2 separate regions of the Homo sapiens genome follow, and region 1 is linked to region 2. Evidence: fine-mapped expression QTL. A gene starts in region 2. The other region holds a variant in brackets. All regions are shown on one strand. Distances are between the middles of the regions.

Region 1 (2,910 bases), 21 kb after region 2:
AAAAACTTTTTAAAATTGAAACAAAACACACAGAGTTAAAACGCACAAGTCTTAAATGTACAGCTTGATGAGTTTCCACATATGCATAGACGCATGAAACTAAGACCCAGACCAAGAACCACCTAACCATGGGCAAACCAAACTGATATGCTGCAGATAAATGCAAGAGTAGAATCTAGTTGGATCTCTAATATACCTTTTAAAAGTTGTTTTAGCTGGGCAGTGAGGTCCACGCCGGAAATCCCAGCATTTTGGGAGGCTGAGGCAGGTGGATCACTTGAGACCAGGAGTTAGAGACCAGCCTGGGCAATATAGGGACACCCTGTCTCTACAAAAAATTTTAAAATTAGCTGGGTGTGGTGGCGCATGCCTGTAGTCCCAGCTGCTTGGTAGGCTGGGGCAGGAGAATTGCTTGAGACCAGCAGTTCAAGGCTGCAGTGAGCCATGATTACACCACTGCACTCCAGCCTGAGCAACAGAGTGAGACCCTGTCTCAAAAAACAAAACAAAACAAAACAAAACAAAACAAAAAGAAAAAGAAATGAAAATATAAAAGTTGTTTTATTGTTGTTGTTTATTCTGATATTTAGAGACAGTTTACTCCTTCTGGGGCTTTGTGGGTGGGAAGTCAACTAACAAGGATCTAGGAAACACTAGGAAATATTCTCCCAGCAGGCACACACACACTCATTCAGGATAGTATTTTCCACTTGTTGGCCGGGCGCAGTGTCTCACACCTGTAATCCCAGCACTTTGGGAGGACGAGGCGGGTGGCTCACTTGAGGTCAGGAGTTCGAGACCAGCCTGACCAACATGGAGAAACCCCGTCTCTACTAAAAATGCAAAATTAGCCAGGCGTGGTGGCTGGCTGTAGTGGAACTTCTCGGGAGGCTGAGGTGGGAGGATCACCCCAGGAGCCCAGGAGCCCAGGATCCCAGGAGGTTGAGGCTGCAGTGAGCCATGATTATGCCATTGCACTTCAGCCTAGGCAACAGAGTGAGACCCTGTCTCAAAAAGAAAAAAAAAAGAATTTTCTACTTGTTTAGGGATCTCTCAGGATCCCTAACATGTAAGAAATATTTAGGAAACCAGGCTCTGACTTACTGCCACCACGTATTTTGCATCCCTAATATTTAGTAACAGGGCGTGAAGCAGTTGACTTTTATATGTAATCTGGGCGCTTCCTCTTACATAACACCAGAAACTTCT[C/T]GTTCTCTCCAACTTTTTTTTCCGTTTGTAAGACATTTCTTTCCCATGGTAGGACAGTGACAGTTGACAATGCTTTTTTTCCAGATCTTCCATTCTTCTTTTTCTAGCTTTGTCTTAGAATTAAAATGAACAGTTTCAAAAATAAACTTGATTTTCTTTAAAAGAAAGAAAACAAAACAAACAAAAACCCTTAGTTTGGAACACAACCCATGGTTGGAAGTGAACCACCTGCTCTCTCCCACAGCCATGGATAATTCAGTGTTACCCATGGGATTATGCTGGCCAAGGATTTCAAAATGCTCATATTTCAAGCACTTACTATCTTATACTATATAACACTGAAAAATACTAGTTAGCATATTAATTCATGTAGTAGCCCCAACTTTCTGTCAGTTTGTGACATCTTACAGGGTGTTTTTAATAAGCAATAGGTTTACAATGAAAGTTGTGATGGTCAGGATGTTAATATAGCATTAAGGAAGCAAATGTGTATTAAACTTTATTAGCAGCTCCTGGGCATTTCCTGTAGTGAAGCTTTACAGACTAAGACACATTTCTGATGTAATCACAAGGCAAGCTGATTCAATTTTGGCTCTGCCAGCGGTGACAATTTCTTAGTATACTATTGTTTAAAGTATGCCCTACTTTTTAAAGTTTATAGATATAAAAGCAGGAAAATGGCTGAAAGAGGGATCCCAAAGATTGTGTTTTCCATTTTCCCATAGCACTTCAGCAGCCATTGACATGCCTGAGGACATCCATCATCACTCCATCTGAAATTTCTCCTTTTCCTCCCTTTATTGCCGGAAGATCACTGAGCAACCCTAATCACACAGCAGTCTAAGTGATCAAACTTTTATGTACTGCAGCGAATTTCTTACCATTCCAATTGCTCACAAATTTATTGAAATATCAAGTAAAAAGGCAACAATAGGCCAGGTGCAGTGGCTCCTACCTGTAATCCCAGCACTTTGGGAGGCCGAGACGGGTGGATCACCTGAACTCAGGAGTTCAAGACCAGCCTGGCCAACATGGTGAAACCCCGTCTCTACTAAAAATACAAAAAAAAAAAAATTAGCTGAGCGTGGTGGTACATGCCTGTAGTCCCAGCTATTCGGGAGGCTGAGGCAGGAGAATCCCTTGAACCCGGGAGGCGGAGGTTGCAGTGAGCCGAGATCGCATCACTGCACTCCAGCCTGGGTGACAAGAGCGAGACTCCGTCTCAAAATAAATAAAGGCAACAATAGCAGATGACTGCAATCCTGAGTGTGCGCCTGGGTGAGGAGACTCAAAGACGCTCGGCATGTCGGAGGAGAGATGCGTTCAACCTGAATTGTTCCCGTGACCCTGAGAAAGTGACTTCTCATTCTCTGCTTTATTTTCATTTGTAAACAAATAAAAAGCAAGCAAACAAAAAGCAACCATTGTCATTAAATGTCTACACAGTGCTTTTGTTAAATATTTACACCTGCTTTGAGTGTCATCTGGTCACTAAGATTTGCTATTATGTGACAACTCTCATTTAGGTTCCCTGAACCAGTTAAATTAAGGAAATTAAGGAATTCTTTTTTTTTTCTTTCTTTCTTTTTTTTTCTGAGACAGAGTCTTGCTCTGTCACCCAGGCTGGAGTGCAGTTGCGTGATCTCAGTTCACTGCAACCTCCGCCTCCCCAGTTCAAGCAATTCTGCCTCAGCCTCCTGA
Region 2 (2,910 bases):
TGTAGGATTAAAACATTTTGGTGAATTGGATTTACCTGCACCCAGGGAGGAGTCTCCCCTCTCCATCTGCGCCCTTCTCACCCTCAGCGGGTTTCCTAAGTCCCAACCCCTGCGTACAGATCAAGGACTTTTCACTTTCTCAAGGCAGCTTCTCTGAGAAATGTACAAGCCACGCCGCGAACCGCCCGCCCGGAAAGCTCTGGCGGCTGAGGTGGTGCCTCCCTAGGCGGCCCCTGCCCCTCCCGGCACCGTGGTCCTCGAGGGCGGCACCGAGTACCTTGCCCAGCAGCTGCACCGGGGACACTGCCGACGCCAGGCGGCAGCTCTGGCATCAAATGCCTGAGCTGAGGACGCATCTTCCAGATGCCACAGCCCTTCCCTGCTGGCTCCCGGGCCTCCCGCCTCTTGGCCTCCTGCCTGCTGTAACCCACGCCTGTTCCTCTATCCGCCCCCGAGAGCCCCTGTCCCCAGGCCCTGGGACCCGCAGCAGGTCAGTGCTGCTAGAGCGAGCCTGCGCCTCGGGACACACGGCCCCTGCGGCTCCCCCGCGGTCCTCCGGGGCCCCCGTCTGGGCGTGACCCGCGCCCCCAGCGGCCTCCCCGGGGCCCCGGACCTGACGAGCGCAGCCCCGCGCGCCCCGGCTCACTGCGCCACTCTCGCGCGTCGGCGTCCCCAGGCTCCCCGGGAGGGGGCGGCGGGTGCTTCGGGTCATCAGCCCGGGAAGTATTTTTGTCCTGGGGCCGCCAGGAGAGGACAGTGGCCCGAGCAGGGTCCAGGAGAGCTGGGACACAGCCCTTCCCCAAGCCCCCTTTTGATTTTCCTTCTCGAAGCCTCGGCTGGGGCGGGGGCACCAACAGGCAGGTGTGTGGGGCCGGCAGGGGGCAGATCAAAGAAGACACTTGCTCCTTCCCCTTTGTCATGCAGAGCCAGCTCGGAAGTGAGCCGGCCCCCAGCCCGGGACTAACAGCTTCCACGCCCGACTCCCCTCAGACCCCCCCTCCTCTGGAGGATGCCCCTCCCCCTCTCCTCTCCCCCCATAAATCCTCCTCGTCCCCCGGGGCAGAAGGTCTGTGAATGCACCGGCTGGAACCACGAGAGATGGAGCAGAGATAGGGCTGGCACCAGGAGCTAATGGTTTTATGGAGGGGAGGCGACCAGGTCCCGAGTAGGGAGGACGAGAGAAAAGCTTCAAAGCGTTTCCTTGTCCAAATATCCTTAACTCCACCTACCAGTCCTTCCCGGGGTTGCAGAGCTAGGGCCGCCCGTGCCCTCCTGCTTCTCCAGCCTCCTCCCCGCGGCCCCGAAGCCTCCTGCCCAGCCTATGCCCAGCCCGTGCCCAGCCCACCACCCTGCCGCCCGCAACACCTACTCTCCCTGGGGACTTTGATCCTCACACATTTCCACCACCAGATAGCGGAGTTCTTCCTCCCCGCCTGTGACACTTGTCCCTCACACCAGTGCCTCTCACCTCTGTCACCCGTCCATCAGGCTCCAGTGGAATCTCTCTGGTCCTGCAGTTCCTAGGTTCAAACTAGGCTACATTGGGGGCCACCGTTTCCGAGCCAAAGACAGGCCTGGGTGCCTGCTAATGGTCACTGTGGCTGTGACTGCCCCCAGGACAGGCTGACACGGTAACTAGAGCCAGACTTCCCAGGAGCTGCTAATCCCGCCCTCAGTGCCTTATAAACATATATGGAGACAAGAATCACTCCCGCAGCTGTTTCTACTCCATCCCCCGCCCCGGGCTTTCCACGAGGCGGCTCTCAGCCCATTAAAAATGTTTTTTTTTTTAAAAATTGCCCCCCAAAATGGCTCTAACATGTGCAGTGGCTTCTTTCTCTGACTTCCAGATGTGTGGTACCTGAAACTGAACTCCCCCATACACACATATGCACGCGCGCGTGCACACACACACACACAACACACACACCAGCCCCCTCAGGACGCTCTCTGTCCTGGCAGACAGATGCGAGCCAATTCTTGAGTGGCCATAGAACTGAAGCCAGGCAGCTGTTTGCCCTCTCTTACATTCTTGTGCTGGGGTGGGCTGGGGTGGGAGGAGAAAGGACCCCTTAGAAAGGTAAATGCTGGCGACTGGTTTCATCAGCATGGGCAGAATGGAAATTTCTTGCCTCAACCCGACTGGGAAGGCAGGAAGCTGTATGGGGGCTGACGGTTTTGTGTTAATGAGCAGGTCACATTGGGACCCCTGTTTGTGGGTCACTAGTGAGATTTATAGCAGGATTCAACCAGGGGAGGCTCTCCTTGTGTAGGAAGAAAGATCTGGTAAATGCCCAACAGGCAGGAAAAGGCCTTTGCAATAACTACAGATTTCCCCAGGGTCTAAAAAGATTCCCCTTCCTAAGAGGCAAGTGTCAATTCAAACATACCAAACACAGTAGTTAAGAATGCGGGGCTCTTCGGGGGGCCAAGGTGGGCAGATCACCTGAGGTCAGGAGTTCGAGACCAGCCCGGCCAACATGGTGAAAGCTCACCTGTAATAAAAAAGTATAAAAATTAGCCAGATGTGGTGGCACATGCCTGCAGTCGCAGCTACTTGGGAGGCTGAGGCAGGAGAATCGCTTGAACCTGGGAGGTGGAGGTTGCAGTGAGCCAAGATAGCACAACTGCACTCCAGCCGGGTGACAGAGCAAGACTCCATCTCAAAAAAAAAAAAAAGTGGGAGTCAGGGTCTCTATTCTTTAGTAGTAGTGACTAGGAGGCTGTGGGGAGGGAAAGATGCAAAATTCCCAATCAGGATCCTTCCAGAAGCCAGAATGAGCTGGTCAGACATCTGCTCTGTTCCTCCTCTTCATTCATCCATGCAGCCATTCAATACATTCATTAATCAAATGAATTACACCCTGGGTGCCTAATATGTGCCAGTTACTGCTCTAAGTGCCAGAGACA

Alleles and levels. Positions count from the first base shown, and alleles are read on the strand shown. Sizes are in standard deviations (SD) of each study's normalised expression.
For the expression in whole blood of the gene that starts at base 1,609 in region 2, T is the low allele of the variant in region 1 and C is the other (large effect, 0.75 SD a copy in Lepik 2017).

Evidence for each region. PIP is the estimated chance that this variant, and not a neighbour inherited with it, causes the effect. A credible set is the group of variants that fine-mapping cannot tell apart.
Region 1: its variant is the best candidate, but not a certain one, in a credible set for the expression of WNT5B in whole blood (Lepik 2017, PIP 0.67).

Annotation. Positions count from the first base shown.
Region 1 is chr12:1,607,208-1,610,117 of GRCh38, reverse strand. No RefSeq gene overlaps it. Among named protein-coding and RNA genes, the nearest start is that of FBXL14, 14 kb to the right of the region's middle. The variant C/T (reference allele first, on the strand shown) is at 1,210.
Region 2 is chr12:1,627,930-1,630,839 of GRCh38, reverse strand. WNT5B (Wnt family member 5B) reads right to left here and starts at 1,609. Exons shown (of 5, transcript NM_032642.3): 1 at 1,469-1,609. RefSeq lists silencers at 163-457, 412-471, 502-691.